Homo sapiens: one gene and its partners. The protein of the gene in region 1 interacts with the protein of each later gene in a pairwise test. Each region holds a gene or a part of one and is shown in the gene's direction. Other genes may lie near its edges.

What was found.
Region 2: the proteins of AP1M1 (region 1) and RP9 interact in binary tests that used the Homo sapiens proteins (3 or more experiments, as listed by UniProt).
Region 3: the proteins of AP1M1 (region 1) and ZBTB44 interact in binary tests that used the Homo sapiens proteins (3 or more experiments, as listed by UniProt).
Region 4: the proteins of AP1M1 (region 1) and LRATD2 interact in binary tests that used the Homo sapiens proteins (3 or more experiments, as listed by UniProt).

What each region holds. Positions count from the first base shown.
Region 1 is NC_000019.10:16,207,874-16,214,911, forward strand, and holds part of AP1M1 (AP-1 complex subunit mu-1), read left to right. Parts: intron 1-145; coding exon 146-276; intron 277-1,156; coding exon 1,157-1,304; intron 1,305-2,486; coding exon of another isoform or gene 2,487-2,522; intron 2,523-7,038. UniProt on the Homo sapiens protein: Subunit of clathrin-associated adaptor protein complex 1 that plays a role in protein sorting in the trans-Golgi network (TGN) and endosomes.
Region 2 is NC_000007.14:33,106,402-33,114,008, reverse strand, and holds the start of RP9 (retinitis pigmentosa 9 protein), read left to right. Parts: upstream 1-4,604; 5' UTR 4,605-4,636; coding exon 4,637-4,788; intron 4,789-7,607. UniProt on the Homo sapiens protein: Is thought to be a target protein for the PIM1 kinase. May play some roles in B-cell proliferation in association with PIM1.
Region 3 is NC_000011.10:130,311,887-130,319,022, reverse strand, and holds the start of ZBTB44 (zinc finger and BTB domain-containing protein 44), read left to right. Parts: upstream 1-4,105; 5' UTR 4,106-4,648; exon of another isoform or gene 4,649-5,206; intron 5,207-7,136. UniProt on the Homo sapiens protein: May be involved in transcriptional regulation.
Region 4 is NC_000008.11:126,551,943-126,554,494, reverse strand, and holds the end of LRATD2 (protein LRATD2), read left to right. Parts: 3' UTR 1-2,052; downstream 2,053-2,552.

The sequences.
Region 1 (7,038 bases):
GCCCTGTAGCACACCACCGAGCCTGGGAAGTAGGCTGTTGGTAGGACTTAGCGGGCAAATGAATGTGTGCAAGCGTTCATTCATTCCTCATCCGTCCGCTCAATGATCTGCCTCCCATTCCTCCCTCCCTCCCCAACCGCCACAGGTGTTTTCCGAGTACTTCAAGGAGCTGGAGGAGGAGAGCATCCGGGACAACTTTGTTATCATCTACGAGCTGCTGGACGAGCTCATGGACTTCGGCTACCCCCAGACCACCGACAGCAAGATCCTGCAGGAGTGAGTGGGCAGGGGTGGGGCCTGGGGCCAGGCCTGGGCGGTGTCATGACATCGACGTCATCAGGTGTGGAAACAGAAGGGGCAAATTTGTGTTCATGTTGTCCCCCACCTGCCTCCCACCTCCAGCAGTATTCGGGTTTTTACTAAGTTGCTCTTAGTGGTTTTAATTCGTTTCCTCCTCTACGCCCCCACATAACCGTGCTTTTCCTGCTCCTCATCTTTACTCTCCATCCACACAGATGCCTTCAGTACCTTGCTACTAAGGAGTCACCTCCCTTGTTTTTACTGTCATAAAATGAGACTGTGATCGAAATCTCCCCTCTTTGGAATCCTGCCCTTCAGATAAGAAGCAATGTGAATTAAGTGCTTCCTGGGGGCCGGGCCCCAGCACTTCACATTCACTCGATTCACAGCCTCCCCGTATACCGTCTCCCCATTTTACAGGGGACAAGCAAGCAGACTCCCAGAGAAGCCTGTGTTCCTAACCGCTGCACCTCCTGCTCCTTCAGCAGGATGGGGTCACCAGGTTACACTCCGAGGCGTCAGTTCCATCCACGTGCTCAGCAGGGACGGGAAGCAGCTCACACCCACTTCTTGTTTTCCTTCCCAACATGGTCTTCTTGGTCCCCCAAAATGAGCACTTCAGCCTCTATAACTTGAGTGTATTGGCTTTTGGAAATTGTGAAGATTTTTCTGTATGAAGCAGCCCCAGGTGAACCAGAGGCTGCCTTTTCTGGAGCTGCTGAAATCCAAGGGCTATTTTCAAGTCGGTCAGAACCTGCCCTGTACCCCCCACCCAACCCTGCCGAAATGTCAAGGCCAGAAGCTGTGGCGTTGGTGCGGGTACCACCTCCTTCACTCTGAGCGTGTGGCCCCACAGGTACATCACTCAGGAAGGCCACAAGCTGGAAACAGGGGCCCCGCGGCCACCAGCCACCGTCACCAACGCGGTGTCCTGGCGGTCCGAAGGCATCAAGTATCGGAAGAATGAGGTGTTCTTGGACGTCATCGAGTCTGTCAACCTCTTGGTAGGCCTCTTTTCTTTCCTTCTTCTGTAGGGTTTTATCTCTTCCACGATAGAAATAAACACAGCATTTTAAAACTGGCAAAGCCCCGAGAGCCGTTCTGTGTGGTAACAGATAGCAGGATTCAGTTTGGGCCACTCATTGAAATGTGAGTTTGTCTTATCTTTTTTTTTTGAGACGGAATCTCATTCTGTCGCCCAGGCTAGAGTGTGGTGACACGATCTCGGCTCACTGCAACCTCCGCCTCCCAGGTTCAGGCGATTCTCCTGCCTCAGCCTCCCGTGTAGCCGGGATTATAGGCACCCGCCACCACGCTCGGCTAAAGCTTGTTTTCTTTATTAGCATTTATGCTGACTGAGAATCCATACATGCACATTATTTTTAAAAATTAGAAGCAGGGTATGAGGTTAGAAAGTGAAGGGCTCTTATCAGTCACCATGCACAGAAAAAAAAAAAAGAAACTAAAGGGCTCCTATAATCAGAAAGATTAGGATTTATTCACCGTCACCCTCTCGGGCCTCATTCTGTAGACAGACAGAAACAAGTATATTGATTTTTCTATAAACCTGAGATCATAAGATGTGGTTCTCCTGCAGCTTGTTTTTTTGGTGGTGGTTGTTGTTTGGGTTTTGATTTTGCGTTCAGTGTTACTGTTTTGTATATTTTTTTCTTTTGGTTTTTTAATTATGAGGAAAGTTGACGTTTTGAAAATGAATTTTAGCGCTTGTACAGATTTGTGTACCCATCACCACACCCAGGACACAGAACCTCAAAACCTCCTCATGTTGCCCCTTTGTAGCTCCATGCTCCCCTCTTCCCCATTTCCTGGCCACCATTGAACTGTTCTCCATCACTGGAGTCTTCATCGTGTTGTGATTGTCACACGAGTGGCATCATATGTCACCGCAGCTGTCTTTCTGAGATTGTCGTATGAATGGCGTCATACAGTCATGAGCTCTCGAGTCTGGCTGCTTTAACTCATTCTAATTCTTTGCGATTCATCCAAATCCAATTGTTTTGCATATCAAAAGTCTGTTCCCTTTTATATTTATTTATATTTATTTTCTGTTCTGAACCACAGAAGGACATTTGGGTGGTTTTCCAATCTTTGGCAATTGTCAATAGAGTTGCTAGAAACATGTCGTGTCCAGGTTTATGTGTGGACATAAGTTTTCATCTCTCTAGGGTAAATACCCAGGAGTGGGATGGCTGGGTCACACGGTAAGTGTATGTTTACCTTTATAAGAAACTGCCAAACCATTGCTGTTTTGCATTCTCGCCAGCAACAGATGAGGGTTGTGATGACCCCACATCCTTTGTCAGTAGTTTTATTTTTGTCATCCTAATAGGTATGTAGTAGTATGTCAGCACAGTTTTGTGTTTTGTTTTTGTTTTTGTTTTTGAGACACAGTCTCGCTCTTGTCGCCCAGGCTGGAGTGCAATGGCACTATCTCCATTCACTGCAACCTCTGCCTCCCAGGCTTAAGCGATTCTCCTGCCTCAGCCTCCCGAGTAGCTGGGATTACAGGCACCCACCACCAGGCCTGGCTCATTTTTGTATTTTTACTAGAGACGGGGTTTCACCATGTTGGCCAGGCTGGTCTCGAACTCCTGACCTCAGATGATCCACCCGCCTCTGCCTCCCAAAGTGCTGGGATTACAGGTGTGAGCTACCACGCCTGGCCTATTCCATTTTCTTAATGGCTAATAATGTTGAGCATTGCTTTACATGTTTCTTTGTCATCTGTATATCCTCTTTGGAGAAATGTCTCTGTGCATCTTTTTAGCATTTTTAAATTGGGTTATTTTCATATAGTTGAGCCTTGATAGTTCTTTGTGTGTTCCAGATAGAAGTCCTCTGTCAGATAGGTGATTTGCAAGTATTTTCCCCCAGTCTGTAGCTTATCTTTTTATTCTCTTAGCAGTGTTTTTTTTTTTTCGACAGAGTCTCACTTTGTAGCCCAGGCTGTAGTACAAGTGGCATGCTTGGCTCAGTGCAACCTCCACCTCCGGGCTTCAAGTGCTTCTCCAGCCTCAGCCTCCCAAGTAGCTGGGATTACAGACGCATGCCACCATGCCCGGCTAATTTTTGTATTTTTAGTCGAGACAGGGTTTCACTATGTTGGTCAGGGTGGTATCGAACTCCTGACCTCAGGTGATCTGCCTTCCTCGGCCTCCCTAAGTGTTGGGATTACAGGCGTCGGCCACCATGCCCAGCCCCCAATACTATATTGAATAGGAGTGGTGAGAGAGGGCATCTTTGTCTTGTGCCAGTTTTCAGGGGGAACGCTTTCAGCTTTTGCCCATTCAGTATGATGTTGGCTATGGATTTGTCATAGATGGCTCTTATTATTTTAGGTATGTTCCTTCAAAACCTAGTTAGTTGGCTGGGCATGGTAGCTCCCGCTCTACTAAAAATAGGAAAATTAGCCGGGCGTGGTGATGCGCGCCTGTAATCCCAGCTACTCGGGTGGCTGAGGTGGGAGGATCACTTGAGCCCCAGAGGTAGAGGTTGCAGTGAGTCCAGATTGTGCCACCGCACTCCAGCCTGGGCGACAGAGCAAGACCCTGTTTCAAAAAAAAACAAAAAACAAAACCAAAAAACTCCAGTTTGTTGAGAGTTTTTAACATGAAGAGATGTTGAATTTTATCAAAAGCCTTTTCTGCACCTATTGAGATGATCATGTAGTTTCTGTCTTTAGTTCTATTTATGTGATGAATCATGTTTATTGATTTGCATGTATTGAACCAACCTTGCATCCCAGGGATAAAAGCCTTCTTGATTGTGGCGGATTAGCTTTTTGATGTACTGCTGGATTCAGTTTACTAGTATTTTGTTGAGGATTTTTGCATCAATGTTCATCAAGGATATTGGCCTGAAGTTTTCTTTTTTTGTTGTATCTCTGCCAGGTTTTGGTATCAGGATGATGCTGGCCTCATAGAATGAGTAGGGGAGGAGTCCCTCCTCCTCCGTTTTTTTGGAATCATTTCAGTAGGAATGGTACCAGCTCTTCTTTGTACGTCTGATAGAATTCAGCTGTGAGTCCGTCTGGTCCAGGTTTTTTTTGGTTGTTAGGCTATTTATTACTGATGCAATTTTGGAGCTCATTATTGGTCTGTTCAGGGATTCAGTTTCTCCCTGGTTCCATCTTGGAAGGGTATATGTGTCCGGGAGATTATCCATTTCTTCTAGATTTTCTAGTTAGTGTGCATAGAAGTGTTAATAATAGTCTCTAAGGGTTATTTGTAGTTCTGTGGGGTCAATGGTAATATCCCCTTTGTCATTTCTAATTGTGTTTATTTGGGTTTTCTCTCTTTTCTTAATAGTCTAGCTAGCAGCCTATCTATCTTATTCATTCTTTTAAAACACCAGCTCCTGGCTTACTTGATGTTTTGAATGGTGTTTTTGTGTCTCAGTCTTCTAGAGTTCAGCTGTGACTTTGGTTATTTCTTGTCTTCTGCTAGCTTTGGAGTTGGAGGCTTTTGCTTCGTGAGTTCTTTTAGTTGTGATGTTAGGTTGTTAATTTGAGATCTTTCTAACTTTTTGATGTGGGCATGTAGTGCTGTAAATTTCTCTTAACACTGCCCTAGCCGTGTCCCAGAGATTCTGGTCTGTTGTATCTTTGTTCTTATTTGTTTCAAATAATTTCTTGACTTCTGCCTTAATTTCATTATTTACCCAAAAGTAATTTGGGAGCAGGTTGTTTAATTTCCATGTAATTGTATGGGTTTGAGTGATTTTCTTAGTTTTGAATTCTATTTTTATTGATTTGTGGTCTGAGAGAGTGGCTGGTATGCTTTTGGTTCTTTTGCATCTGCTGAGGATTATTTTATGTCCAATTGTGTGGTGGTTTTTAGAGTATGTACCATGTACAGATGAGATATATTCTCTCGTTTTTGGGTGGAGAGTTCTGTAGATATCTATCAGGTCCAGTTGATCCAGTGCTGAGTTAAGGTCCTGGATATCTTTGATAATTTTCTGCCCCAGTGATCTGTCTAATACTGTCAGTGGGGTGTTGAAATCTCCCACTGTTATTGTGTGGGAGTCTAAGTCTCTTTGTAGGTCTCTAAGAACTTGCTTTATGAATCTGAGTGCTGCTGTTGGCTGCATATTTATTTAGGTTAGTTAGATCTTGTTGAATTGAATACCTTACCATTATGCAATGCACTTCTTTGTCTTTTTTTGATCTTTGTTGGCTTAAAGTCTGTTTTGTCTGAAATTAAGATTGCAACTCTGCTTTTGTCTGTTTTCTATTTGCTTGGTAGATTTTTCTCCATTTCTTCATTTTGAGTCTGTGGGTGTTATTGCATCTGAGATGGGTCTTTTTTTTTTCTTTTGAGACAGAGTCTTGCTGTGTTGCCCAGGCTGGAGTGCAGTGGCGCAATCTCGGCTCACTGCAACCTCTGTCCCCCAGGTTCAAGCAATTCTCCTGCCTCAGCCTCCCAAATAGTTGGGATTACAGGCACGCGCCACCACGCCTGGCGGTTTTCTATTTTTAGTAGAGACGAGGTTTCACCATGTTGGCCAGGCTGGTCTCGAACTCCTGACCTCAAGTGATCCACTCGCCTCGGCCTCCCAAAGTGCTGGGATATTACAGGCATGAGCCACTGCACCCAGCCAAGAATGGTGTCTTAAAGGGAGCATATCATTTGGTCTTATTTCTTTATCCAGCTCTTGCCACTCTATGCCTTTTAATTGGGGCATTTAGCCCATTTACATTCAAGGTTAGTATTGATATGCATGTATTTGATCCTGTCATTGTGTTGTTAGCTGTTTATTATGCTGACTTGTTTGTGTGGTTGCTTTATAGTGTTACTTGTCTGTGTACTTAAATGTGTTTTTGTAGTGGCTAGTAATGGCCTTTTCTTTCCTTTTTCTTTTTTTTTTTTTTGAGACAAAGTCTCACTGGGTAGCCCAGGCTGGAGTGCCATGGCGTGATCTTGGCTCACTGCAACCTCTGCCTCCCAGGTTCAAGTGATTCTCCTGCCTCAGCCTCCCGAGTAGCTGGGACTACAGGCGTATGCCACCATGCCCAGCTAATTTTTTTTTGGTATTTTTAGTAGAGACAGAGTTTCACCATGTTAGCCAGGATGGTCTCGATCTCCTGACCTGACCTCGTGATCCACCTGCCTTGGCCTCCCAAAGTGCTGGGATTACAGGCGTGAGCCACTGCACCCGGCCTTTTTTTTTTTTTGAGATGGAGTCTTGCCCTGTCACCCAGGCTGGAGTGCAATGGCATGATCTCTGCTCACTGCAACCTCTGCCTCCCTGGCTCAAGCAATTCTCCTGCCTTAGCCTCCCGAGTAGCTGGGATTACAGGTACCCACCACCATGACCGGCTAATTTTTGTATTTTTAGTAGATATGGAGTTACACCATGTTGGCCAGACTGGTGTCGAACTCCACACCTCAGGTGATTCGCCTGCCTCAGCCTCCCAAAGTGCTGGGATTACAGGCATGAGCCACCACACCCGGCCTTCTTTTCATATTTAGTACTTCTTTCAGGAGCTCTTGTACAGCAGGTCTGCTGGTAAACAAATTCCCTCAGCATTTGCTTGTCTGAAAGGATCTTTTTTATTCTTCTTTTTTTTTGAGACAGGGTCTCATTCTGTTGCTCAGGCTGGAGTGCAGTGGCATGATCATGGCTCACTGCAACCTCTACCTCCCTGGCACAAGCTATTCTCTGGCCTCAGCCTACCAATTGGCTGGGACTATAGGCAGGTACCACCACACCCGG
Region 2 (7,607 bases), on another chromosome or scaffold:
TCAGGAGTTCAAGACCAGCCTGGCCAACATGGTAAAACCCCATCTCTACAAAAAACACAAAAATTAGCTGGGCATGGTGACACGCGCCTGTAGTCCCAGCTACTCGGGAGGCTGGGGCAAGAGAATCACTTTAACCCAAGAGGCAGAGGTTGCAGTGAGCCAAGATTGCGCCACTGCACTCCAGCCTGGTGACAGAGTGAGACTCTGTCAAAAAAAGGAAAGGAAGGAAAGAAAGGAGAGAGAAAGGGAGGGAGAGAGGGAGAGAAGGAGGGAGGCAGGAAGGAAGGAAGGAAGGAAGCTCATTGGCACTAAACAAGCTTTTGGGAGCCGGCAAGCTCTGATAGACGAGTGACTGCAGCAGTTAAAACCAGTCGCAGAGCCAGGGCAGGCCGTTTCAGCAGCTACCAGGTAAAACTGATCTTAGAGTTACAGCAGTCCATTTTAGCGGCTGGGCTTCTGGAAAATTTAATTCTTGGAGCAGGTCCTGTGACCACAAGTGCTTTTCCCCCCTGACCCCTTGATTCTCTTTTACTTGAGTATGACAAAAATTACCCAATTTGTATAACTAACTTTCACACAAACGTGAGACAGGGACTAGAAGGAATGAAAGGTTATCGGAATAAGAAAAAGAGGGGAAATGAGAGAGAAAGATGGCAGGGAGAGAAAAACAAGATAACAATCAGTGAGAGAATGCAGAGGCAGGGACCAGAAAATGTGGTAAAATCAGACAGAAGGACACAATGAGAGGAACAGCAAAATCTGAGGCCAAGGTGGGCATGGGAAGCAGCATGGAAGAGCGGGGAGAAAGGGATCTGAAAAAAGGACTGGTCTGAATCAAAGTCAGTAAACCAGGTTCTGTCAAATGCCCCTCAGACAGTACAGGAACCTCAAGTGTTAATGGTAAAATCCAACGTAATCCACTAAGGCCAGGCCCTAAAAAAAAGGTTTCCACCTTTCATTGAGTCTGAAATAAAGGCAGTTTTGTGAATCAGAAAACTACTGTGGTTTTGAGAACAGTAAACCCTGGAGGCTAAGCTATGCCAGTTGTTAACTTTTGCTTGGCACACACAGGATGGCTAAAGAAATGACCAGCCTTAGTCAGATCAGTTGAGGTCAGGAGTTCGAGACTAGCCTGGCCAACATGGTGAAACCCCGTCTCTGCTAAAAATACAAAAATTAGCCCAGCGTGGTGGCGCACGCCTGTGGTCCCAGCTACCTGAAAGGCTGAGACACGAGAGTCCCTTGAACCTGGGAGGCGGAGGTTGCAGTGAGCAGAGATCGTACCACTGCACTCCAGCCTGGCCAATAGAGTGAGACCCTGTCTCAAAAAAATGAAGGGAAGGGGAGGGGAGGGGAGGGAAAAGGCCAGCTGAGGAAAAATACCTCCTCACCCCCATCAACATAGCAGGGCCCCATCTGTATTGTTTTTAATTATTAAATAAATAAATTGAATGAAAAAACATCCCCAAAAGTCCATCTGAGCCGATTTGAGGCCAATGGGACATCAGGGAAATTTGTTTCCAGCAGCTTCCTATCCTCTTCTTTACCAAGAGATTCTCCAAGGGTTTCCAAGAGATTCTCCCACTCCCACTATTCCCACACACCTAAATTCATGAGGGTTGATGAAAAACTCTGGACTAGAAATCAGACCATTTTGGTTGCAGGGCCACACTCTCCTTCTGAGCCTCAATTTCCTTATCTTACATTGTCTTGCATGCCCCCATAGGGTTTCTGTAAAATCAACTGGGAGAACATATGGGGGCAGGGGGAGATCTGCATGGCACTATATAAATGTAAAGAATCATATTTATCTGTGAGTAATAGAAGACCCAACTCAAAATCACTTCAATAATAAAGAAATGTACTATCTCCCAGAATGAGAAGTATGGATAGGTAGCAACACCAGGACTGGTTGATCAAATGTCTCTATCACATCCCCAAGGACCCAGGGGTCTCCTTCTGTCCTCTGCCATCCTCTGGGGGTTGCAGGCAACAACATCTGGAGGCAGAAAGGGGATCTTTGACACTCCCAAGCATCATTTATTAAGAGCAAAGACAACCTTACCCTGAAAGCCACCTCCATCCGACCTCTCCTCATACCTCATTGGCTAAAATTGCACCACAGGTCCATTGCTAAAACAATCAGTGGAAACGAGAACAAAATTACTAATGACTGGCTTAAGACAAGTCAAGACTCACCTCTAGAGAGGCATGAAGAGGCCTCCACTCTCTAACCAGCTTCCTGTATGATTCCTGAACAAAATCAAAGCTGGTAGCAAGGAAGAGAAGGAGAAATGTCAACTCAGTTGCCAAATATTTGCCCCAGAATACCAATTAAGTTTGGTGTCTGACCTTCCTCCCTCAGTCTTTCGTACCTGCAAGCCTAAAGTAAAGCACGTTGCAATTTTCCCTCCGATCCTACTGGTTAGCAACTATTGATGGATAGAAATAATTTTTCTTTTTTTGAGACAGGGGCTCACTCTGTCACTCAGGCTGGAGTGCAGTGACACGATCATGGCTCACTGTAGCCTCCACCTCCTGGGTTCATGCAATCCTCCCACCTAAGCTCCACAAATACCTAGGACAACAGGCACAAGCCACCATGCCTGGCCCTAGAAGTAATTTTAACAGCTGTTTTTAGTGCATGACCAAAGGGATTCTCATGTTTCTACTGCGCTGCAGAAGACCATAGACATGCACGCCTGAGGGTCCACTTCACCATGAGAGTTCCTTGAAGACTTGTATTTTGGGTAGGAAAAAAAGAAAGATTTTGCATTGTACTCTCTAATCTAGCCATGTGATCTTTCCCTTCTCCTACTTTTTTCCTCTCCTCATCTCCCCAGTGGGGAAAGGTCACTGGTAAGATAAGAGCTTGTAAAAATACACCTTAGCAGCAAAACAATGGTGTCAAGATTACACTGTGAAGGGTGATCAATACAAGCAGGAGAAAATCTATTCTTTTTTTAGTTGCTCCATTCTGAAAGGTTTAAAACCTGTCCAGTAGCACAGACTAAGGACCAACTGCAGCTGCCCCACCAGTGGGCCAACACCAAGGCTGCTTGACTGGCCTCAAGAATGAATCTCTGGTGTCTTAGGAGGGGGCAGAAGAATAAAATGAAAAACAGAGGGGTTCATGGACAGGAGGGTACAACAGAAAGAAAGCACAAAGAGAAGTCAGAGAATATCAAATCACAAAATAATTTCATAGTCAGGTGCAGTGATTCCCACCTGTAATCCCAGTGTTTTGGGAGGCTATGGCAGGAGGATTGCTTGAGGCCAGGAGTTCAAGGCCAGCCTAAGCAGCATAGCGAGACCCCGTCTCTACAAAATAAAAAACTTTAAAAAGTTAAAAAGAATTTTGGAAAGAGCAGTATCACATAGAAAATTAATGAGACTGTATCATCGAGGAGAGCCATGTCCTAAAAGAAAAAAAAAAAAGCTATTCATCATGATGCAAGACTTCAAAATATGTTAATCATCATAAAAGTTGGGCAGTTCATGTGGACAATCGCCATGCAATTGCCCATAATCTATCCCTGCAATACACTTTTTCTATGTTGAATTTTCTTTTTAGTTTGCTTTCGTTTTTCTATTTTCTCTTTTAGCTTTTTCATTATTGTAAATTGTCAGCATTATGTTTTACAATTCACTATGCTATGTATTACATCTTAACATCATTTCTAATACTGGAGGCATCAACTATATAAAGACTTTTAGAGAGTTCAAATTTGTTTTATGCATTTTTTGCAAATATGACTCAATCAAAGCTCATTATTACAATGGTGACTGTGTAAGCATTCTACATATATGCAAAAATGTAGAAATTTCCTCGATAAATAAATAAGTGTCTTTTCTGTACATCTGCATTTGTGAAAGATGAAATTTCTCAGGATCTTGGCTCCTCGGGTGACTGGCACAGTGGTGACGTCATGGTGACCCATCCTGTCAAAAGAGTTAGGTTGTCTCTCATGGTATATCAGATGACCGCAGTTATAAAGCTGGGTGCACACTATTACCGAACATAATTATATGTTTATACATTTCACTTTTTGAACACTTTTTTTTTTTTTTTTCTGAGAGACAATCTCGCTTTTTCGCCCAGACTGGAGTGCAGGGGCACCATCTCGGCTCACTGCAACCTCTGCCTCCTGGGTTCAAGCAATTCTCCTGCCTCAGCCACCCAAGTAGCTGGGACTACTGGCGCCCGCCACCACGCCTGGCTAATTTGAACATTTTTTTATGAATACATTTCATCTGCTCATCCCTATGTGACTGTTGCTAGTATACCTGAGGTGGGTGTGGCCGGGCGGGAACCTCCAGGCTCCCAACTAGCGCCTCGCCCCGCTTCGGCTCCAGCTAGGCGGCGCTCCCCACCCACCCGCAGCAGCCCGCCTGGCGGCTGGGCCCGAGACCCGGAGCCCCTGACTTGGGGCCCGACGCGGGGAGGCGGGGATCGGGTGGCCGAGGCTGAGACTTCGGGGCCGCCGGGGTGAGTTGCGGGGCGGCGGCGGGAGGGGGCGCTGCGAAGCCCCGCGACCGCCGCGCGGAGGAAGTGCTCTCTTGGCTGCCGCCGCCGCCGCCGCCGCCGCCGGAGCCGCGCCGCGGGGGTTGCCCGAGCGGCGCTGCGGGGGCTGACATGTCGTCCCGGCCTGGGCGCGAGGACGTGGGGGCTGCGGGCGCGCGGCGGCCGCGTGAGCCGCCGGAGCAGGAGCTGCAGCGACGTCGGGAGCAGAAGCGGCGGCGACACGACGCGCAGCAGCTGCAGCAGCTCAAGCACCTGGAGTCCTTGTGAGTCCCGAGCTGCCGTCCGCGCGCGGCCAGTCTTCTGAAGCCAGGGGCCCGGGGCGCGGGACGCCGCGGTGGGCGCTAGGCCGGGTCCTCCGAGCCCCCGCGAGCAGGCAGGGGGGCTGGGCCCGGCAGGAGCCTGGTGCGGGCGACCGATGTCGGGCGCCGCGGTCAAGGACTTGAAGTCCATCCTCCTGGCGGGGCGTTCAGGGAGCCAACTGCCGCTCGGCACCAAGCAGAATCTGACTTGGGAGGCCCTGCGCTTCCCTAGCTCCAGGGGGTTCCAGGAGAGTCCAAATGACCCGGGAGAGTGTGGTGTAAAGAAGATTCAAATGTAGGGGAAGGAAATATGGTTTCCCTCTACCCTTCTAAGTTCTTAAGCTGGGCCACAAATTAAATTGTCATAAGACAGATTAACAGGAGAAAAACTTTTAATTATGTACCCGTGCACTAGAGGGCCACAAAAGTGGGAGACAAAGAAGGGCCAGGGAATAGGGGCGTGGGCCTTTTGGGGCGTGGTGGAGACCTTTTGGAAGGGTGATGGGGGAAATGTATGGTGAATAAAGGTTGCTTTGTTATCCCGATGAGGCGCTCAGGCGATAAAAGTTGCCCCCAAGCAGCTGTCTTCCTGATACAGATACATTTACTACAGAAAATTTCCTTTATAGGTGTAAATTTCTGTTTACAACAGGCGAGTCGAAAAATAATAAGAACAAAAGGAAAAAAAGCAGTCATACTTTATTTTAGGCAGTTGAGGGGTAGCTGAATAAGTTATCCTGTGTTGTTTGGTTCTGTTACTTATAGCTCAAAGTCATCAATATGCCAGGGTGGCATGTTTGGGGATGGTGCATTCTTGTCTTTTGCAGTCATTTATCAGGGTGGCGTTTCCTAAATTCTAACACAGACCTCGAGTGGAAAGTTCAGGCAGCAACTCTTTCAGTTCTTGTCCGTGATTCTATAATTAGCTGCATAAAACAACCTTTTCTAAGTGTGGCATTCACTCAGTTATTCAAGAATTCGTTTCTGTTTTAGCCACTTCTAGTTACCTGTGCTAAGTAGGTGTTAAGTATAGCCTAACGCTGCCTCCTTGAATATTTTAAGTTTAGCCTAAAAGTTTCTCTGTACTTAGTGAACTGTAACCTAAGTAGATGTGTAAACAGACTGTAACCTACTGTTATAAGTACCTGAGTCTCAGACAATCACAGCAGCTGATTTTCAGGCCGTCACAGGTGGTCAGCCTTTGAAACCCTGTTCAAAGAAGGCAAACGCCAGGCTGTATGGAATCCAGCTATTTCTCTACCTCATTTGCTTTTCTGTACATCACTTTCCTTTTCCTGTCCATAAATGTTATCCCACCAGGTGGCAGCCTGAGAATTGCTCTGGACCTATTCTGGTTATGGGGGTGCCCTCTTTGAAAACAGTTCTTTGCTCAAGTAGAGTTTAATTTGTCTACTTTTAAAAAACATAATTCATATAAGAAAAGTTCCTCAAAGAATTAAAATCCTTTTTATAATTAACCTTCTGGGAGGTTTGATGTGAGATAAATTCCTATGTTGGGACCTGGCCTGCTCTTTTTCCAGTGTGGCCCGCTCTGAACGACTTTTCCCCTTAGCAGGGCAGGGGATGCAGGATAGAGACCCTGCATTGTGGGCATCCATGTTACAGGGCAGTCCTGGCCCTTTCAAGTCACTGTGTGGCGCTCTTGGTCTCCCAGGGAAGTCAGGTGTTCAAAGATCTTCCCCTAGCGTAAGCATCAGAATGCCTGGCCCTGCCCAGCCCTCAATATATTTAGCTATAGAATGCTAGAGGATGGTTAATTCCACTTATTTGTAGCTCAGAGAGCTTTTTCACAGATGAGAGAGATTATAACCTACTTTTACAGATGAAAAAATGGAGGAACAGTGGTTAAGTCATGTGATCAAGCATACATTGACCAGTTAGTTAACCAGCAAATCTAGAGCTGAACCCAGGTGTCTGATTGACTGGTGGGATTTTTCCAGTTTCTGAGATTTAAAACTGAATGAGCCGTTGAGACATTTGCTTTGGCCAGTTCAGAATCTTGTTTGAGCTTTAAATTGTATTTATACCACAGTAATATGTAGTTTTAAAATTCAAATAGTACTAAAAGTGCTACCAAAAAATAGCAATAGGCTGCCCAACTCCTCAGTAACCACTCATATTCCCTGTGTCCCTCTTCCCCCTCCCAAACCAGGCTTCTCTGTGTAAACTTTTAGGTTTTACTTCTGGGATTTAACTGTTTGGTTTTTGTTTTTTTTTTTTGAGATGGAGTCTCGCTCTGTCACCCAGGCTGGAGTGCAGTGGTGCAATCTTGGCTCACTGCAGCCTCCACTTCCTGGGTTCAAGCGATTCTCCTGTCTCTGCCTCCCAAGTACCTGGGACTACAGGTGTGCATCACCATGCCCAGCTAATTTTTATATTTTTAGTAGAGATGGGGCTTCACCATGTTGGCCAGGATGGTCTCGATCTCTTGACATAGTGGTCTGCCCACCTCAGCCTCCCAAAGTGCTGGGATTATAGGCGTGAGCCGCTGCGCCCACCAACTGTATATTCCTAAATTGTATATTTATACTGTTTACATCAATTCAACATCTTAGACATACCTCTTAACTTCTTGTCACAGTAAGGATTTAGTTCTTTACCTACCCTTCTTGTTTCCAATCTTCCAGTATAGTTCCATCATAGCAATTTTTGCTAAACGAATGCTTAGTATTAACATTATTATAACTAGGCTGGGCTCTGTGGCTCACGCCTATAATCCCAGCATTTTGGGAGGTAGAGGTGGGAAGATCGCTTGAGGCCAG
Region 3 (7,136 bases), on another chromosome or scaffold:
GAAGCCATTGTTGGCTGACATCACTGCTATGCATTGCAACTCTGGCGACCATGTAGAGAATGAGGAAAAGGGAGAGTGCATTTGGGAAACCACGTGAGTGGTATTATAATTCTCCAGGCACAAGCTAGTATCATCTTATTTTAGGACGGTGGCAGTGGAGAGGGACACATTCAACAGGACTTGTTGATGGATTGGAATTGAGATACAGTAGTAAAGTAGCAAAGTCACCCTGCTTCACTGGGTGAATGGTAAAATGTGAACACTAGAAGAGGTATAAATTTTAGGGTAAGAGAGTGAGATTAATTTTTTATATATGTAGTTGTATAATCTAATCTAATAAGGAGGCAAGGTCGGGTAGAAAGGATTCATGCCTTAATGCTAATGCTTTTGGACTAAATAACTAAGTTTCCATTCAGTTATAATGGTCTTCCACAAGGAAGTGCCATCTTTTGCAGAATTTATTCCCCCAAAGAGCTCGTGGCTGAAATATAACTCCTGGAATTTGCCTGGAATTTGAATTCCTCAGAATCATCCACACCAAGTTAATAATTAAAGGTTCCTCATACTGTCTACATTTGTTTTTTTCACCTGTGTACAGGATTCTGATTTCACAAAATCCTCCCAGCAGTATTATTTAACCTAGTGTCAAAGAAAGGTGTGTATATTCCAGCAACCCAGAGGCAAGTCTCTACCAGCTCAAGAAGGAAAAAGGTGGGAGGCTGCAGAAGCCACAGAAACTGACCCTGCCCAGAGCCAAAGCAGACAAGAGGGCTCCTGCAAAGTTAATCTTCTTTGAGATTTTCTCACACCCTCTCCAAGCATCTAGCATTGAGCTCTGAAGGGCCTCACGGTCATTTGTTCGTTAATAAATTCTTCAGACCTGAGGTGGGGGTGGAGTGGAAGGATGATAAAATATTTAAATGTTAAATGAGAAAGAAAAGCAGGAAAGGGCTCAGGTATGGTAGCTTATGCCTGTAATCCCAGCACTTCAGGAGGATCACTTGAGCCCAAGTTCACATAGCAAGACCCATCTCTACAAAAAATTTTTAAAATTAGCCAGGCACAGTGGCGCACTTGTAGTCCTAGCTATTTGGAAAGCTGAGGCCAGAGGACGCTTGTGCCCAGGAGTTTGAGACTGTATTTAGCTGTGATTGCACCACTGCACTCTTGGACAACACAATGAGAGCCTGTCTCCAAAAAAAAATTTTTTAAGTGGAAAAGGCAGAGGAGACAAGGGAATAATCTAAGGGAAGAAAAGTTTTTAAATGATAAAAGCCATATATGACAAACCCGCAGCTAATATCACACTGAACAGGAAAACATTGAAAGCCTTTCCACTAAGATCTGGAACAAGACAAGGATACCCACTTTCACCACTCCTATTCAATATATTTCTGGAAGTCCTCACCTGAGCAATTAGGCAAGAGAAAGAAATAAAGGGCAACTGAATTGGAAAGGAAGAAGTCAAATTATCCTTGTTTGCAGATGACTTGTTCTTATATTTAGAAAAACCTAAAGACTCCATCTCTCAGAACTTTGATGAACGAATTCAGTTAAGTTGAAGGATACAAAAATCAATTGATTTTCTTTTCTTTTCTTTTTTTTTGGAGATGGAGTCTTGCTCTGTCGCCAGGCTGGAGTGGCACGATCTCGACTCACTGTAACCTCCACCCCCTGGGTTCAAGTGATTCCCCACCTCAGCCTCCCAAGTAGCTGGGACTACGGGCGCGTGCCACCATTCCCAGCTAACTTTTTTGTATTTTTAGTAGAGATGGGGTTTCACTATGTTGGCCAGGCTGGTCTTGAACTCCTGACCTCGTGATCTGCCTGCCTTGGACTCCCAAAGTGTTGGGATTACAGGCGTGAGCCACCACACCCAGCACAGTTGATTTTCTATATGCTAACAGCCATCAATCTGAAAAAGAAATCAAGAAAACAATCTCATTCACAATAGCTACAAAAAAGCAAAATAAAATACCTAGCAATAAATGTAAGCAAGGAAGTGAAAAATCTCTACCCGGAAAAGTGTACACATTGATGAAAGAAAATGAAGAGAACAAAAAAAAAAAAAAAAAAAAAAGGAAAGATATCTCACGCTCATGAATTGAAAGAATTAATATTGTTAAAATATCCACACTACCCAAAGCCACCTACAGGTACAGTACAATCCCTACCAAAATATCAATGACACTCATCACAGAACTAGAAAAAAAAATCCTAAAATTTGTATGGAACCACAAAAGACCCTGAAAAGCTAGGGCAATTCTGAGCAAAAATAACAAAGCTAGAGGCATTCCTCTACCTGACTTCAAGTTGTACTACAAAGGAAAGCAAATTTTTGTGTCAGTGTAGTAGTTGAGGAGCTGCCACCACAGCCCCTGGAGAAGCACTTAGAAAAGACTTGCCTCATGGTCTTTTATTGACTATCCTGTTAAAGGCACTAGGAGAGGTAGATAGGATTTGACTACTTCATTTCCACCCTGATTCTTGTCCAGTTGCTTACCACCTACATACATTCTCACACATTCCTCACCAGGGCCCCAGCTCATGCCCTTTCCTGAGCCCTGCTCTGTGGCCGCCAGTCCTCTCCCAGGTAAGCATTCCGCCTTCTTTCCCTTCCCCTCTTCAAAACTTAGTGCAAAAGTTTCTGGGCCTAGTTCGCATCTTTCTGATTTTTCTCATCTCTGAAATGGGAATAATAAGAATGATAGTGGGAATAATAATAGAAACCTGTGATAAAACCTGTGAATTACAGTTGCCGTAAGGATTAGATAACATTATACATGCTTGAAAACTTGTTGGAAACTGCGAAGGACTATAAAAACAGAAGTTGTTTTTATTGCCTTTATTCCTAAAGAAGATTGCAAGTGTCAGGGTGTTCAGGTGCTTGGCTGCTTGTCTCTCAGAGTGAATTAATGTGAGATGTTGCCAAGTGTTTCAAAAGGAAAATCCACTCTACTTCAGCGGGACGTCCACCCACCTTGCACAAAACCCTCTGGAAAGAAGTCTTTCGGTTTGCAAACTGGAGGCGTGGGAAAACAGAAAGCGCCCAAGGAGCACCTGCCCGCACCCCGCCCGCCCCCAGGCACCTGGGGCGCTGCCGCCTGCAGTCCCGGGAACCCCTATGACCTCCGGGGGCGGTGTGGAGAGCGCTCGCCCGCCTGGCCAGGGGAAGCCAAGACTTAGGGCCCTAGGAGTTAACTAGGTTGATTGATTTTGCAGTTGACCAAGAACTTCAAAACCCCCCGGGCGGTACCGGTTACTTCGGGGAGGCCCGCACACTTCCTCCGGGAAGGCCAGGAAGTAAGTGATGGTGCAGTAAAAATGACAGATTCACGGTTGTGGAAGAAGTAGGGTATATTTTTGGAGCAGCTCTAGCTGTCCCTGTGTTGGAAGAACGAGAGGGACCTGGGAGTCCGTTTCTCCACTCATCTCAAGAACCGCACGTCCTGCCAGGTCACCGAGGCAAGTGCTAGAACGGAAGAGAGCAAGCACTGCGAGGAGGCCCGAGGAGCCACGCAATCCAGACACCCGCCGCATGTCGCAGTCCGCCCAGGACGGGGGCGCGGGCTCACCTGTCTGCGGGGCGGCCCTTGGCAGGCCTGTTTCCATGGGTGAACAATGGGCACCTTACCAACTAACCTCCCTCGCCGAAGAGGGGCTGAAGTGTTTCTATTTCGACCTCCCTACAAAAACTACCCGAGAAAATAGGAGTTATGTTTTTAGTTCGAAGAAAAAAATAATGCTATAAATGTGACTCCTGCGGAGAAATGCTTCTCAGGTGTGAGAGGGGAACTGGGTAAGAGGACGGCTTAGAGGAAGGACAAATGGGACAGGGCTTATGGGGCATGTGAATGTAAATCGGCACATGTGCGCACATATGCAAAAATACAGTGTCAAGACTCACGGCCTTTCTGGGTCACGCAGGCTCCACCGTCTAAGGAGACGGAGTCACCAACAGTACAAGTCCCGACGGCCAAGAGGGCCCATTTTCTGCGCTTGCGCAATCATCACGTTTCCTTCCCCGCCCCGAGCCCCGCCCCCGAGCGCGCTCCGCCCCGCCCCCTTCTCCTCCCCTTCCCCAGCCAGGCCGCCGGCGCAGAGCATTGTGGGACACAAACAAAGTGCCCCCAAACAGGCTGGAGTGAGCGGAGCGGCAACGGCGGCGGCGCCGGCCGCACGCGCGCGGCGGCGGCTCCCTCCCAACCTCCCCCTCCCCTCCCCTCAGTCCCCTTCCCCTTCCCCACCCCGCCCCGCTGGGAACACGCGAGCCGTCGCCGCGCTCCCCAAACAACCGCCTGCCCTCGGCCAACCGTCCCCAACGGTCGCCAGCGCGCGGCTCCCGGGCCCCCTCGCTCCTCCCCTCTGGCCCCTCCGAGCGCTGGGGGTGCTTCCCTCCCCGCCTCCTCGCACTCCCACTCGCGGGCACGCCGGTGGCTGTGCCGCCATGCCCCACCACAGGCTGCTCACGGGCCTAGGCGCGGCGGCCCGAGATAGGGGCCCCTGAGCCTCCCGGGGGAGGAGAGAGGCAGCGAGCCGCGCTCCGCCCCCTCCCCCCGGGCCGCCGCCGCCGCCGCCTCGCCGCCCCAGCCTGGCGGGAGAAGGAGGAGGAGCAGCAGGCCTCCGGGCCCGGCGCCGCCGCCCGCAGGTAACGGGGAGGGGAGGGCGGGCTCCGGTCGCGCGGGGGACGGCCCCTGCACGCTGCCCGTGGCTGACACCGCGTGGCCCCCACCTGGCGCCGAAGGGAGCGGAGAGCCGGGTCTGTCAGCCTAGTCCGCGCCGGGAGACACCCCACGGGATCCCCTCGGTGGCATTTAATCCTTCTGGGAGGAGACCGGCCTTGGGCCCCGCGGTCCCGGAGCAGTTACCCCGACCTTCCAGGGAGCTGCCCGTCCTTTGCACGCCCATTTGCCCAACACCCTAACCCGGAGCGGCCGGAGTGTTGCCACCTCTCACCTGGTCGAACCCGGGAGGCTCAGACCTGTTTTTTTTCCTCCTTTCCCCTTCTGCTTTTTCTCTGGTACAGAAAGAAAAAGATGGCACTTCTTTAAAAAAATATATATATATATATATACACACACACAAACACACACACACATACACACACACACACACCTCTTTTCCTTTCCTTCCTGAGGATCACTCTGCATCTAGTCGTTTTATTGCTGGCCTAATCAGAAAAAGGGGTTACCTCGAGAAATGACAGGTACGTTAGAACTGATTAAAAGGAAATTGCGTCCATGTGAGTTCTATGAATCCAAGCAGAATTTACAATAAAACCCCGTAATTGTGTGCTTTTTTTTGGAACTTACAAAAATGAAGACAAAAACTTAATTTCTTTTTCAGCGTGTAAGTAGATAATCTCTTGAAGTCAGGAAGAAATTCTCCATAACTTCCACTTATTTTCTTAATGCTTTATTTGGAGATCGGCTGATACCGGAAGCAAGCTGCACGATTTTGATTTCCTTTTCTCTAGGTGTTCAGTTGGAATTCTTGGGTTTAAAAAATACTGTATAAATCTTCATTTCCCCCATTACTTCACTTGGACTGTCAGTGGATTAATAATAATTTTACCTAATGTAGTTTCCCCTTATCATAGAATGTGAATATAATGAACGTAGTCCTTTAGTTTTGTATTTTAGGATTATTAGTAATGTACTGATTAATTATGAAAACCAGATTATTCATTTTGTGCAGTACTGCTTGGCATTTTTGCATTTGTAATTATTTAATTCTCAGAACAACCTAATGATGCAGATATTATTACTTGAATTTTATAGAAGTGACAAACTTAGTGATACGAAGAATTACAACTTGCCTTAGGGCACACAACTAGTAAGATAGTTTAGATTTCAACCCAAATATAATTCCAGTATAGATGTACTTTCGTGTACTTTCTACCGTACTTCTCAATAGAAGTACAATTTTATTAACTTTGTTATGAAAAATTTTAGTCGTATAGAGGTTCGTTCTATACAATTGTGATCGGTTATTCATGCAATGAATAAAAATGCTAATCAATGCAATGAATAACCAACTCAGTGATTAGCATTTTTGCCATATTGTTTCCTGTCTTTCTCTGTATGTGTGTAATTATTTGAAAGTAAGCTGCAAACACTGTAATCCTCAAATATTTCGGCATGTGTTTCCTAAAAATAGGGACATTCTCCTACTAACCCCAGTATCATTATTAATGCCTATCAAAATTAACAACTCCATCTTCAAAATTCCTCAGTTGTTCCAAAGTGTCTTTGAGGGTTCTGCCCCCAGTTGTAGTCAGTCAAGATTCATGCATTGATTGCATTTGGTGATTAAGTCTTTAGTCATTTTGTAAAATGAAGAGTATCCATCCCCTCTTCTTTTTGCAGGGGAAATTAAATAGGATGAATATTCCCTCCCTTCTTTTTTTCTGACACGTAATTGACCAAACCAGTTGTCTTGTAAAATATACCCACATTCTGGATTTGTGCCCTCCTAATGTCATTTCGTTTATTCCTCTTTCTCCCTGAATTTCCTATTAACTGGAAGTTAGGTGTAAAGGAAGGCTTAATTAGCTTAAAGTAAAACTTCCTTTGGCAAGAATATTTAATAGGTGATGCTGTGTACCTCCTGTTGCATAATATAGGAGGCACACAATGTCAGATTCCCACACTATTAATGATGCTAAATGTAACCATTTGATTAAAGTGCTGACTACTGATCTGTTGTAAAGGTGTGGTTTGCCAGTTTGTGATTAATATGTAATCTTGGGGTAAAACTTGGACACTAAGCAAATACCCAGTTTCTGACAATCTTTTGCTTAGTGGTTTTTAGCACCCATGATGACTTTTGCTTAAATCAGTTATTGGAGGTTCTCTGTAAGGAAGAGATTTCCTTCATTAAGTGCAGGTAAACTATTGTTCTTCCCCAAAATGCAAATTAAATGTTAAATTTAATCTCTTTACTTTTCAATATTCATAGTAAAGAGCTGGAGAAATAGCCACCCCCAATGATGTTTTTTGGGGCAGGGGTGAATGATACCACTTCAGACTCTCATGGGTTTTAATTTATTCCTTGTTTTATAACCAGTTACAGTCGTCTTTCTTTTTAATGACCAAATTGTCCCAGATTTGGTCAGTAGGAACCATTTCAAGCTG
Region 4 (2,552 bases), on another chromosome or scaffold:
ATGAATTTCTTGTTGGAAATGTAAATCTAGTGTCCATATTTAATACTCTCACAGCTTTGTGTTTATTCTCTTTGCTCATGGAATAGCAGAACAAGATAAACATGGGTTAAGACATTTAGGAGAACCTGCTGTATCTAACCCAGTTGGATTTTCTTTCATGCTTAACACAGTAGTGAAAATAGAAGGTAGGCCGGGCACAGTGGCTCATGCCTGTAATCCCAGCACTTTGGGAGGCTGAGGCAGGTAGATCACCTGAAGTTAGGAGTTCGAGACCAGCCTGGCCAACATGGCGAAACCCTGTCTCTACCACAAATACAGAAAATTAGCTGGGCGTGGTGGCAGGCGCCTGTAATGCCTGCTACTTGGGAGCCTGAGGCAGAAGAATTGCTTGAAGCTGGGAAGCAGAGGTTGCAGTGAGCCGAGATCGCACCACTGCACTCCAGCCTGGGCAGCAGAGCAAGTAGTAATAACCACCGTGTAGACAAGTGGGAGGGAAGAATAGAATGGCACTGTCCAGCTCTGGGCTAGCCAGATCAACTCCCCCACCCGTCTTCTTCCTCTGTCCCAGAATGGAAAATGATGTATGGTCAGTCACGCTGAAGTATAGCAGCGACTGTGTTAAGAGAGAGCAGTGACTCTCTCTTCTAGAGAAGAGGTTTTCAATAACAGGGCTTGGAAATGAACTAGAATAGGAAATAGATCTTTTCAGATGCTGCTTTCCCATGTAATACAAGCGTTTCTACAGGGTACCAGAGGTGTGAAATATGTGACACTTAAGAACAGTGATTTTTATTGGGAATTTTCTTAGGGTTATTACACTTAAAGCAACAACCAACTAGTAACAGCTCCAGGAAAGGGGAATGAATCAACTCTTGGTTCTTTCCTGAAGACGGCAGTGTTGTGGATAAGTGAGTTTTTAATGCCCTGGCAGTGGCTACATTTGACACTTTAGAAAAAATAAACATATTTAATAATTTTTGTTTCTCCTTAGGAATAAGACTGTAGAACTGTTTTGTACTGTGAATTACGGATGCTCTTTGAAGGAAAGAAATATCGATTCTAATGTTCTTCAGAAGTTCTGGCAGGGATAAGCAGGACATCGACTGGAACGTATGCTAAATGAAAGCAGACAAATTTCTATTTTCTTACCTGAGCAAATATTTTATTGAAACTGCTTATGTATGTCAAAGGAGCCCACAACTTCAGCTACACAACTTTTTGTATTGAAAGAACTCATACTTTTTGTAGCTTTTATTTCACATTTAATTTAAAGTGACTTTTAGCACTAAAATGCCTAGAAGATTTTACTCCAGACCTATAAGGAAATGTTTAGTTTTTATGAAAAATGACAAGTCGATGGTTAAACTTCTCATGTCTTTGGTGCTTTGGCCCTAATAGCACTGGACAACACCACGACCACATGGAAACATATTTTTGGAAGCAAAACTTTAATTTTATATAACGTATGCTATGGAGAGCTAAGACAATTTAAGGACTACTTGTTTTCTATTTTTTTTCTTAATAAAATGGAATCCACTGTGTTGAAGACTCTTGATATCATGTGCTTGTCTAACCATTTTTTGTTTTATAAATTAGAATAAAATATAGTTGTGATAATGGTCATCGAATGGATTTGTTTGGAAAGCTACATCTTATTTGTGAAATGTTTTTTAAATCAGAGTAACTATCAACTGATTCAGCTTTTTGTTGTTTTGTTCTTGGCTATAATACTTGTGACTCATGAAGAATTATGTTGACAAACAGGATAAATTCCACATGCATTTTATTTCCCAGTGAGTTGTATAAACTTTATTTTTGTTGAAGGTTGTATGTTAAATCAATGTTACATTCTTATATCACTTCTTGAGAAGGAAGTTCCGATTTGAAATTGTATCATTTCCTTCAAAATGAAGGGCAGTGCTTAGTTAAATAAAAGATTGATGATATCTTTTAAGCCATTTCCTCTTCACTATGTCTTATTAAAATAAAACCTGTCAAGTTCTTTTCAAAAGATGCTATGAGCGTTTCCAATAAACCATCTATTAGAGTTCACTGGATTTTTTTCCACTTGAATACCTTTTTTCTGACATTTTTGGTCCAAATTCAAGCTACTCAGTTTCCTATAATTTCTCTGAGAATATTAGCGTGCATCACCTTTGTATTGCACAGTAAACATTTTGTTGAATTCATTTAGTGACTGAAAACCCTGCATCTACTTTGTGAAAATCAGTTATTGCTGAACTATCAGTGTTCATGAAAAATGACTTATGAACATAAATTTTCAATACATAGTGATTTTTCAGAATCCATGCAAAAATTGTTGGAAACCACACTCATTATGGAGTCTACACTGGGCAGTCTGTTTAGTAGCCCACCGGGAATCTGTGTTGCATCTTAAGTGGCTTCAGAGTTCCAGATGAAGGGAACGTATTTGCCACATAATTACAGAAAATGGGTGAACATAGTGGCACGGCACTGTTGGCATAAGGGATGCAGGTGCCAGTGGTTGGTAAGAGAACAGATGTGGCATCAGACTGGTGTGTGGGATGCCA